Regions from separate parts of the Homo sapiens genome. Here region 2 is linked to region 1. The links come from fine-mapping of genetic effects on gene expression. Tissue or cell type: whole blood. Region 1 holds a variant in brackets; the other region holds the start of a gene. All regions are shown on one strand. Distances are between the middles of the regions. Region 1 has its middle 8.5 kb from the start of SND1-DT. Region 2 holds the start of ARF5 (ARF GTPase 5).

Region 1 (5,374 bases):
ACTGAGGAAGTAGATTTTTAATGTTATTTGATTTTAATCAATGTAACACATATGGCTAGTGACTATTGCATAGCATCAGATTAGGTGATTAAATTTGAATATTGCTGTCATATCTGTTACCATAATCTTCTATGTAGGTTTAAAAAATATTTCTGTATGCTTTGTGTAGCCCAAACTTGGTTAAAATGAGTAATAGCATAACCCATCATTTAAAAAAAGTTTTAAGAAACAACAAAAAAGTTTAGTTTGTAACATTAAAAGTGGAATGCACACATACTGTTAAGAAAAAAGAAAAAAAATCCTATGCTTTAGGCTTAGACATTATTTCTCAAACCTCATAGTAGAAAAAAATTATTTGAACATAAGGATAATAATGCGCTCTTCCCAATTTGCCCTATCTATATAATAACTCAATGTAAAGGACTTACAAAAGTGTAATCCTCATTTATATAAGTCTATGATTGGGTAACAATTACAAAACTTTTAGTTAGTGGATCAACTTTGTACCCTGTCCTGTTGTCATTTAATGGCAAGGCCAAACTTCATTCTATTCTCCCAAATGTCATTAATCAATGCCTCTGGGTTCTCAGTAGTCTTAGATAATTGTATATTAATTCGCTCCTGCTGCAGCTGTTGGCTTTGGCCACTGTCACGTTCTATCACTCCCAACCTTGCTTGCTACACAAATTTCTAAGAAAAAAGGCATAAAAAAACTTTATGCAATTGTACCACTTTTATTATAAGGTAGCATGTTGTTCTGAGACTCTGTAAACTGAGATGATCAAGATATTATGAAGATTCCTTTCTCTCCCCAGAATCCTGAAGTCGGTCCTAAAGTCAGCAAACTCAGAGTTAAAGTTTCAGCAAGTAACAGCAAACTAGATTAACCATGGCATAAACATACAGAAGTCCCCCCTTATCTGAAAGGTATATGTTCCAAGACCCCCAGCAGATGCCTGAAACTGCAGATAGTACTGCAGTAATTGCAGATATATATTGTTTTTTTCTATGCATATATACATAACTATGTATGTTTAATTTATAAATTAGGCACAGTAAGAGATTAACAATAATAACTAATAAGAAAACAGAACAATTATACAATATACTATAATAAATGTTATATGAATGATTCTCTCTTACTCTCTGAAAATATCTCAATGTTTTTGAACCACAATTGACTGTGGGTAACTGAAACTGCAGAAAGCAAAACTGCGGATTACAGTGAGCACTACTATACATTTTTCTCTTACAGATCAAGAAGCTGGAGGTATTTGTTTAAAAGTTCAACCATCTCAGTGCAGGCATCTCAGCAATTTCCTTGGCTTTTCCTTTGTAGTTGCAAAATAGCTGCTTCAGCTCCAGACACTGGAACAAGAAGGAAAAGGAGGAGGAAGAGGAGAAGGAGGCAACAAAAAGAAGAGGGAAAAGACCAATGCCAGAAACGTCTGCTCATTTTTATCAGGAGAGCAAGTTTTCCCAGAAGTGCCCATCCTAAGGCCTAAGGCCTCTCCTTGCTGCAGGGGAGGCTGGGAAGGCATTTTGATTGACGAGAGAGGGAATCAGAAATGGGTATTAGGGTGGCCTGAACCTTGGGCCTCTTCTTTTCTTCTGGCCAATTCTGCCTTTCTAGAACTCTGGCCTATTCCCAAGCTCCATTCTCTCTCTCTCTTTATTTATTTTTTTTTTTGAGATGGAGTCTCGCTCTGTTTGTCGCCAGGCTGGAGTGCAGTGGCACGATCTTGGCTCGCTGCAACCTCCACCTCCCGGGTTCAAGCAATTCTCCTGCCTCAGCCTCCCGAGTAGCTGGGACTACAGGCACATGCCACCATGCCCAGCTAATTTTTGTATTTTTAGTAGAGACAGGGTTTCACCATGTTGGCTGGGATGGTCTCGATATCTTGACCTCATGATCTGCCCACCTCAGCCTCTCAAAGTGCTGGGATTAGAGGCGTGAGCCAACTGCATCTGGCCTCCATTCTCTCTTTCAAGACAGAATCCTGGCCCCTCATTCTCTCCAGAACCAAAAAGCCAAAAGCAGTAAGCGTGTGTTTCATGATTGCTGTCTCTGGTCCAGGGCTCCCAGTACTAAAGGCCTGCCTCGGGGAACGTGCAGGCCCGGGACCACCGGCTTCCTCCACTTCTCTGCTATCTTGTGCCTGCAGAAAGGCCTCCTGTCCACTGAAGGACATAACCCTGTGTACATTGCCCTCTCTTGCTTACTGTGGCTCCAGCAGCAATAGCCACACTAAAAATCTCACCCCAAATACACCTAGAGCTTTCTGTCCCTGGTTTTTTGCCTACACCCAATTCCCTCCACTTGGAATGCCGTTCTAC[G/A]GCTCAGTTCAGACACAGCTTTTCCCATAAAGTTATCTGAGAGGCCTCCAATCAGAAGTGACTCTTCCTTCCCCTTTATCCCCAGACATTTTGGATAATGCCTTTCTGGTGGTGTGCACTGCACTCTCCTCGTGTCATAGTTGTTTGTGTAACAGTTGAACTGACCAGTAAACTTTTTGGCAATAAGCTCCTATGAATCTTGTTAACTTGTGTGTTCTCCATAGGCCTGGCACTGCCTTGTAAAGAATAAGCACTCAATAATTGTATTTTGAACTAAATTGAAGTATTCAGTCTGTTTGAATGTCTGAGATGACTTATTTACCTTCTCTTTGCATTCCTTATATCTGTTATATATCCTTTGTGATTTCTGGAAATTGAACCTAAGAGTGTCAGGTATAGTTAGGGTGAAAGTTAGGGATCTTAGTGGGGGTTACTATCATTGGATGGATCCCAACATAGTATAGTTCATGGAATCATAAATATTATTTAACTTCTGCCAACAATAGAATGTGTCTGCACCTCTTCCAGTGCCCACACATGCCTTAACTATAGCCTGCTCCTGTATATTAGATAAGGGAGGCCGGCTGTGGGAACAAAAGAACTAATTATTCAGTGACCTAGATAATACAAAGGTGTATTTCTTTCTCACACAACAGCCCAGGATGGTGACTTTCCTCACATAATCATCCAAAGACTGAGGCTGGTGGCAGCTCTCCCATCTACTAACAGGAGTTCTAATAGCAAAACAGTTCTCATTTAAAGTCAAGAGCAGGCCAGGTGCGGTGGCTCACACCTGTAATCCCAGCACTTTGGGAGGCTGAGGCAGGCAGATCACCTGAGGTCAGCAGTTCGAGACCAGCTTGACCAACATGGAGAAACCCCGTCTCTACTAAAAATACAAAATTAGCTGGGCGTGGTGGAGTATGCCTGTAATCCCAGCTACTCAGGAGGCTGAGGCAGGAGAATCGCTTGAACCCTGGAGGCGGAGGTTGCAGTGAGCCAAGATCGAGCCATTGCTCTCCAGCCTGGGCAACAAGAGCGAAATTCCATCTCAAAATAAATAAATAAATAAATAAATGAAATAAAGTCAAGAGCAAAGGAAGAGGTGTCATGTAATGATGCAGAAACATTTTGAGAAGATAGATGTTGAGATAGTCGCATTAGATGTTCTCAATCTTCTAAATAAAGTGGGAGGACTTGGGAATCAGAAGACAGGATGAATTTCTATAGAATCAGTGACCCCCAGACTGAAGATGAGGCCCTTTCCAGGGAAGGCAGGCCCTGGAATCACCAGGAGTGGATCCAGACCGAAGCCAGACCTCTGGACTGGGTGGGCATCGTCCCCACTAGGACAACTGCTGTCAGCTGTCAGAGCTTAGGGACCAGAGCAATGAAGATGAAGCAAAGAAAGAGGTTAGGATCTGGATGAATGGTAAGGGTCAGGAGTGCAGGGGAAGGCCAGAAGTGAGAGAATGGGCCCCAGGGCCTGTGAATAGAGACAGGATAACTGGAATGCTGAGGGTGGAGCTACCACCACCAAGACAGATTTGTCATTGCTGGGAGTCAGAGGATAGGGACAGGAGCTGAGGCAAGAGGCCAGGGTTCAGGTGGCAGCTGAAGGGGCACAGTCAACTCAGGGTGGATTTCAGGATGGTCCTTGCATTTTTTTCAGGTGCCTTTTTCTGGCTCTCCTCCATATTAATTCTCCCGAAGGATAACTATTTCAGATAGAATAATGATCTCTTTCAGCCACATTCCACACAAATACCACAGATACCAAAAAGTGGAAAATCATCTCTTTCCTCTTTACTCCAAGTCTTTGTTTCATGCATTTGAGAGTGGCATAAATTCCAATATAAAATGATTTTGTGAAACATCAAAGTATATTTGCTATTTATACCATACTCTGTTGTTCAGTGGAGAGCAGTTAATAGAGTTTGCTCTCTTAAGAGTGCTTCAGAGGATAAGATGTTGCTTTATGAGCAATTGAAACAGGCTAAACTACCAATGAGTTATGTAATGTTTACATTTTCTTTCTTTCTTTCTTTCTTTTTTTTTTTTTTTTTTTTTTTTTTTTAGAGACGGAGTCTCACTCTGTCGCCCAGGCTGGAGTGCAGTGACATGATCTCAGCTCACTACAACCTCTGCCTCCTGGGTTCAAGCAATTCTCCTGTCTCAGCCTGCTGAGTAGCTGGGACTACAGGCACTCGCTGCCATGCCTGGCTAATTTTTTTGTATTTTAGTAGAGACGGGGTTTCACCGTGTTGCCCAGGCTGGTCTTGAACTCCTGAGCTCAGGCAATCTGCCCGCCTCGGGCTCCCAAAGTGCTAGGATTACACGTGTGAGCTACCATGCCCGGCCTTTTACTTTTTTTTCTTTCTCTTTTTTTTTTTTTTTGAGATGGAGTCTTGCTCTGTTGCCCAGGCTGGAGTGCAGTGGCACGATCTCGGCTCACTGCAACCTCCACCTCCCCAGTTCAAGAGATTCTCCTGCCTCAACCTCCCAAGCAGCTGGGACTACAGGTGCCCACCACCACGCTTGGCTAATTTTTGTATTTTTAGTAGAGATAGGGTTTCACCACATTGGCCAGGCTGGTCTCGAACTGCTGACCTTGTGATCCTCCTACCTCGGCCTCCCAAAGTTCTGGGATTACAGGCATGAGCCCCCACGCCCAGCCTACTTTTTTTTTTTTTTAGCTCTCAATACAGAGCCTTTGAGCTGTTTCCCTCTGCCTGGAGCTCTGTCCCTAGAACAGGGAACAAAAATGGACAAAATCTCTGCATTCTGGGAGCTCACATTCTAATATCAGAAACTCAGGATGAGATCATTATAATGGTTAAACTTTAAATTTGAATTAGAAGTACTTGTAACCAAGGCAAAAACAAAGAAGACACATTAAGGTTATATAATTCTCACTGTCTGATCCAAGTAAACATATTATTTAATGGGAAGAGACAAACATTTCCCTTGACACTGATTTCTAGAAGACTTTCATTACATGACTCTTTATTTAAAGAACAATGAGTAATACAATGGG
Region 2 (5,374 bases), 55 kb after region 1:
ATATCTCTGTCCCAGCCTGCAGCTTCCCTCAAGAGGCAGGATTCAGCACCAGGTGGGCAGGACCCCTACCGTGCGGCTGCGTAAGTGCTGTAGCCCCAGCTTGTCAGTCAGCTCGCTCACGGGCATGGCGTTGGGCATGTCCTGCTTGTTGGCAAATACCAGCAGCACTGCATCCCGCAGCTCGTCCTCCTGCAGCTGAGAGAGGAGAAGAGAAGGTGGGACCCAGGCTGCGTCTCCTCTACTGTGTTGGGGAATTCCCTTTCTACCTCCTAGCATCTTGATTGGAAAAAAAAAGTATTGTGCAGTCTGCCGTTGAAGACAAGACATAGTTGTAAATGAGCTTGAGGTGACCTGAGCCCATAAGTCCAGAAAAGAAAGACCTTTTCCTAATTTGAGTACTTGCCTAGGCAAAATGACAACATTTCCAAATGGAAAAGGCAGGAATGTAAAATGTTTCTCTTTGCCACATATAAGTCCCATCTCTCCCACAACTTCTCAGACTCAGATGTAAAGACATGAGAATGCGGCCGGGCGCAGTGGCTCACTCCTGTAATCCCAGCACTTTGGGAGACCAAGACGGGTGGATCACCTGAGGTTGGGGGTTCAAGACCAGCCTGGCCAACATGGTGAAACCCCGTCTCTACTAAAAATACAAAAATTAACTGGGCATGGCAGCGGGCGCCTGTAATCCCAGCTACTTGGGAGGCTGAGGCAGGAGAATTGCTTGAACCCGGGAGACGGAGGTTGCAGTGAGCCGAGATTGCACCATTGCACTCCAGCCTGGGCAACAACAGCAAAACTCCCATTTCAAAAAAAAAAAAAGACAAGACAATGCACAGAAAAAGTGAAAAAGTCACTCCCATCCAAAACAGGGTGAGATACACAATGTGTCTGTCCACAAAGAAAAACTTATATTCCTGGTCTTCAATGCCTGTTGGGGGCTCCCTGACTTCTATACCACTACAGAGATCACTCTGTCCCCAAGCTGAGGGCTCAGTTCCCAGGGCTCTGGGTACTCACCATCTTCTGGAGTTCATCAGCAGATTCTTGGACCCGCTCCCGGTCATTACTGTCCACCACAAAGATGAGGCCCTGGGCAGGAAGGAAGGAAGAAAGGAGAAGCAATCACTTCTGCCTGGGACATACCGTAGTGTGGCCCTTTCTGTTTTCTTCCCATTTGTAATTGTGTCAATCCTTCTCATCTAGTAAACTCTACAGAAGTTTACAGAACTCTATAGAAGCTCTACAGGAGTCATGGCACAAACTAGAGACCCCACTGCAAAGAGGAAGTAGTTTATCCAAAGATGTGCAAGGAAATAAAGACATGTTATGAGGGCTAAATCAGGCAGCCTGGTCCCAGAATCCTGCTTCTAAAGAGAAGTCCAAGCTGGGGAAGACTAAGGTGAGTTCTGAAGAGTGAGTAGGGGATAGCCAAACAGAAGGGGTAGAAGTGGGGAAGGGTTTTTTCCTTGGCCTGGGGGCCCAGCCTAGGCCAACAATTCTGTTCTCCCAGCCCTAACACCTTTTCCCGTGGGGTTAGAAAGTCCCCTCCCAACACTCCACCTGAGTGTTCTGGAAGTAGTGCCGCCACAGAGGCCGAATCTTGTCCTGGCCTCCCACGTCCCAGACTGTGAAACAGATGTTCTTATATTCCACTGTTTCTACATTGAAGCCTGCAGATAATTGGAAAAAAAAGATGAGAAAACTCCTGAAAGAAAGGAACTCACTAAAACTACTTAGATTTCAGCAGGGACACAAAACCAGAAGGCAATGATCAAGGCCCAGGGGAACAGAACCCCAGAACTGGCGGTCAACAGGGCGGGGCTAGGTCACATCCACCCTGCCTCCGGTATCCACGTAGAGATACCCTGACCCACTTCTCAAATAGCTGTATCTGGTGTCAGGGTCAGCTCCAGAAAAGTGGCAGAACTGGGAGCAGACCCCGCGAGGGCCCGCCGCGGCGCTCCCGCTCCCTGCTTCGTCCCCGGGCTCACCTATGGTTGGGATGGTGGTGACAATCTCCCCCAACTTCAGTTTGTACAGGATTGTGGTCTTGCCAGCCGCATCCAAGCCAACTGCAACGGAAAGGGGCACAGGGATGGAGATGGGAGCGAGGGAGCCCCCTAGAGACCAGGGAAAGGGAGAGGCCACAACAGCTGATGGTGACTGGGGCGGAGAGCGGGAGCGCCTCCAGGTGCGCGTCGTTATCTACCTTTGAGGCCTGGAGGGCAGTCGGGTGGCGTGAGCCAACTCCAAAGAGGGCGCGGAGCGGGAGAGGACTGGGAGGCAAGGGGCACGGGAGGTAGGCCGCGCTCGTTTTAAAAGTCGTCTCCAAGGGCGGAATCCTCCCTTCTTACCAGCCGGGCTGGGGCGGAGGGAGCTTCACCCCACCCAGGCCCGCAGCTCCGGGTGTCAGGCCCCGGGGTCGGCGATGCAGACCGGGACCCGCCCGAGAGCAGAGGCCCCGGGGCGTTATGAGGTGGGTGACTCGGGGCCAGAGACCCAGGTGAGCGGGGCTGGAGGGACGCGGGGGCGGAAGGGCTGCGCCGGGGCCGGCGCCCCGGTCCGGGCCGCGCGCTCGATCTGCCTCACCCATGAGAATCCGCATCTGCTTCTTCCCGAAGATCCGCGAAAAGAGCGCGGACACGGTGAGGCCCATGGCGGGGCCCGGGGAGGGGCGCGGGCACCGACGCGGGGTGCGGGCTGGAACTGGCCGGCCGCGGGGGGATGGGGCGCAGCAGCAGCAGGAGGAGGCTCCGCCGCCGCCTCCGCGCGTCGCTGCCCTCCCGACGTCACCGCGGGCCCGCCCCCGTCCGGGCCCCGCCCCCGGCTCTCGGCCCCGCCTCCCCCGGCTCTGGCTCCTAGGGGAGCTGAAGCTCCGCGAGTTGCCGCTGCTGGCCTGGGTCCCGTGCGGCCCTTACTTGGGAACGGGTCTAGGTCTCTAACGCGCCTGCCAGGCCTGTGGCCGCCGAACCGGCAGCCCGAGCGCGGCTGAGGAAAGGATTCATCGCTCCGCAGCGGCCCCTGCCCCCATTTTCAGTGGCCGGCCGCTGGGCTTTGGTTTGTTGCGTCCAGGCCCCTAGGGGCTCCGGTTTTAGCCCTTGGGAACCAGTAGCACTGAACGTGTGCACCACTCTCCTTTGGGGAGTGGAAGCTGCGATTAGGGGTCTTGGTCCTCCCTTTACTGCCTCATCTTCCACCGAGGGACTTGCGCGTAGTAGGTGGTCGTGTGAAGAGTGCGCGGGAGGTAGGGGAAGGTGCCCGAGTGCTAGCTAGCTTCCATGGTTCCTCAAAACGCCTACTTCCTAATTCCCAATCCGCAGAACCAGTGTAAGATTCCCGGCCTTGGGCGGCGGGGTCACAGACCCACTCCTGGGCTGTTGGAGAAGTCCACCTTCGTTTGGATCGCCCTGCGGGCCCCGCCTCTCAGTCCAGGCGCTGGCCGCTTTGCCGAAGTTCCTCACTTTGCCACAGACTTGTGGACCTGGCTTATTCTTGCACATCCATTCAGGATTTTGTGAAGATCTTGACTCCGTAGACCCAAAGAGCTTCACATGTCATTTCCCTGCCTCATTTTAACATCTGAGAGGAGAATAGCAAAATAGGAATGAAATTCTTCTGCGGTGGAGACTGGCTCATTGCCAGGCATTATTAGGCCTAACAAATGCTTGTTCAGTTGAACTGGACTGATAGATTCTCAATGGAGCGAGGGTAGGTGTTATGTCTACTCTGGATTCCCAGTGGGCTTCTAGGATCAATTGTTTATGGACTCGAGGTAAACTGAGCTGGGAATAAAAAAACCTTCACTCATTCATTTGCTTTTTCAGCAGATATTTACTGAGCACCCACCACTTGCCAGCACGTGATTTCAGGCTTTAGTTCAAATCTTAATTCTGCCATTTCTTGAGGATTTGGCTTCAGCACTCCTCATAACTCTTCCGTTATTTCATCATCTATAAAATGAGACTTGTTCTAACTTAAGGGGTTATGGTGAATCTTAAAATGATTTGATAATGTGACTGAATGTTATGTATAATACAGCTTGATGTTATTTGGGCCACTGAGAAACGGGGTCTGAACAGACCTCCAGGGCCTGCCCCATCCTGATCTGCAAAGTCTGTAACAAGGACAGACTTTGGGAAACAGGTATGAGTGAGTGAATGACTTTCCTTTTCTCTTCAGTCATAGACTTGCATCCCTAAGAAGGCTTTTACGAGGCTGAAGAGTACATTTTAGAGAGTTCCAATATAATAACAGAACTAGTGTTCACCAAGTTAGGTCAATTCTACATTTAGCTCTTTTATCAGCCTCTTTGCTTCCATCTCTGTTGTCACTACCTTCTGTTCCCCATGACTGAAAGTCTCCTCACAGGTTTCCTGCCCCTTGTTCCCTCCAACATGTCATACAAGTCTTGATGACATCCCACTTTTCAGATTAAAATCCATTAGGGCCTTACTATAACCCAAGATAAAATTTAAATGCCATAAGTTGGGTCCCTACCTATTGTGCCAGCCCCTCTGTTGTCACCTCCTTCACATACCCTAAGCTACTGAATGCTTTCTGGGTGAGTCAAACTCCGATACCCTACAGGTCTTTGCATTTTTTTCCACCTGCCTGGAATGCTAGTTTCCCTGATCTCTGGTTAGGTGGACAATCACGACTCATCCTTCAAATCCCAAAGTATTATTCCCAAGAGCCTTCCATGCCTCACCTAGACAGGCCTCTTTCCTCTTAACTTTCATACCACTTTGAATATACCCAGACATACTGGTGTGATAGCAGGACATATTTGTATGTCTGGTTCCTCACTAGATTGCGAGCTCCCTGAGGGCAAGGTCGTGTCTCTTAATGGTGTTACCATCTGGCACAGCACGTGATACGTTGAGAATCAGACTGATTAGAACTCCTAAACTTACTAGCTGTGTGACCTTGGGCATGTTACGTATAACCTTTCTGCCTCATGTTTTCATATCTGTAAAATAGTGCTAATGAGTATAGTGCTTACAAGAATTACTGTAAAGACTAAATAGCAAAACTCTTGTGAGCTCCTGGTATATAGCTGGCACTCAGGATAGACATGGCTATAGAGTGCCCTCCGTAAATATTTGTGGAATCAACTCAGCAGAACTAAGGAAGGGTACTATTAGGCTGTATGCCTACTAGGTACCAAGCACTGTGCTATAGAGGACTGCAGTTTTCGTGGTCTAAATGGGAGTCTTAATTGTTGCCTTTTAGGGACCATGGGTCCTGAGCTCCCAAATCGTTGGATGCGTCGTTCACCTGGGTGTTTGGTAAGAATGCAGTGCGACGTTGCTCTGTCGCTCGCTGAGCGTAGCCCGAGGTCAAGCTTGGGCGCTCTCACAAAACCGGTGCC

The links. PIP is the estimated chance that this variant, and not a neighbour inherited with it, causes the effect.
Region 2: it holds the start of ARF5, and the variant in region 1 is fine-mapped to the expression of ARF5 in whole blood (TOPMed, PIP 0.97).

The regions. Positions count from the first base shown.
Region 1 is chr7:127,640,609-127,645,982 of GRCh38, reverse strand. No RefSeq gene overlaps it. Among named protein-coding and RNA genes, the nearest start is that of SND1-DT, 8.5 kb to the left of the region's middle. The variant G/A (reference allele first, on the strand shown) is at 2,338.
Region 2 is chr7:127,585,784-127,591,157 of GRCh38, reverse strand. ARF5 (ARF GTPase 5) reads right to left here and starts at 2,747. Exons shown (of 6, transcript NM_001662.4): 1 at 2,593-2,747; 2 at 1,995-2,075; 3 at 1,564-1,673; 4 at 1,021-1,092; 5 at 70-195. The coding sequence starts at 2,659. LOC105375490 (a long non-coding RNA gene) reads left to right here and starts at 1,312. Exons shown (of 5, transcript XR_007060511.1): 1 at 1,312-1,402. LOC105375489 (a long non-coding RNA gene) reads left to right here. Exons shown (of 3, transcript XR_007060513.1): 3 at 1,207-1,289. RefSeq lists enhancers at 1,421-2,046, 2,047-2,673, 2,674-3,299, 3,300-3,926, 5,214-5,374 and a silencer at 2,421-2,910.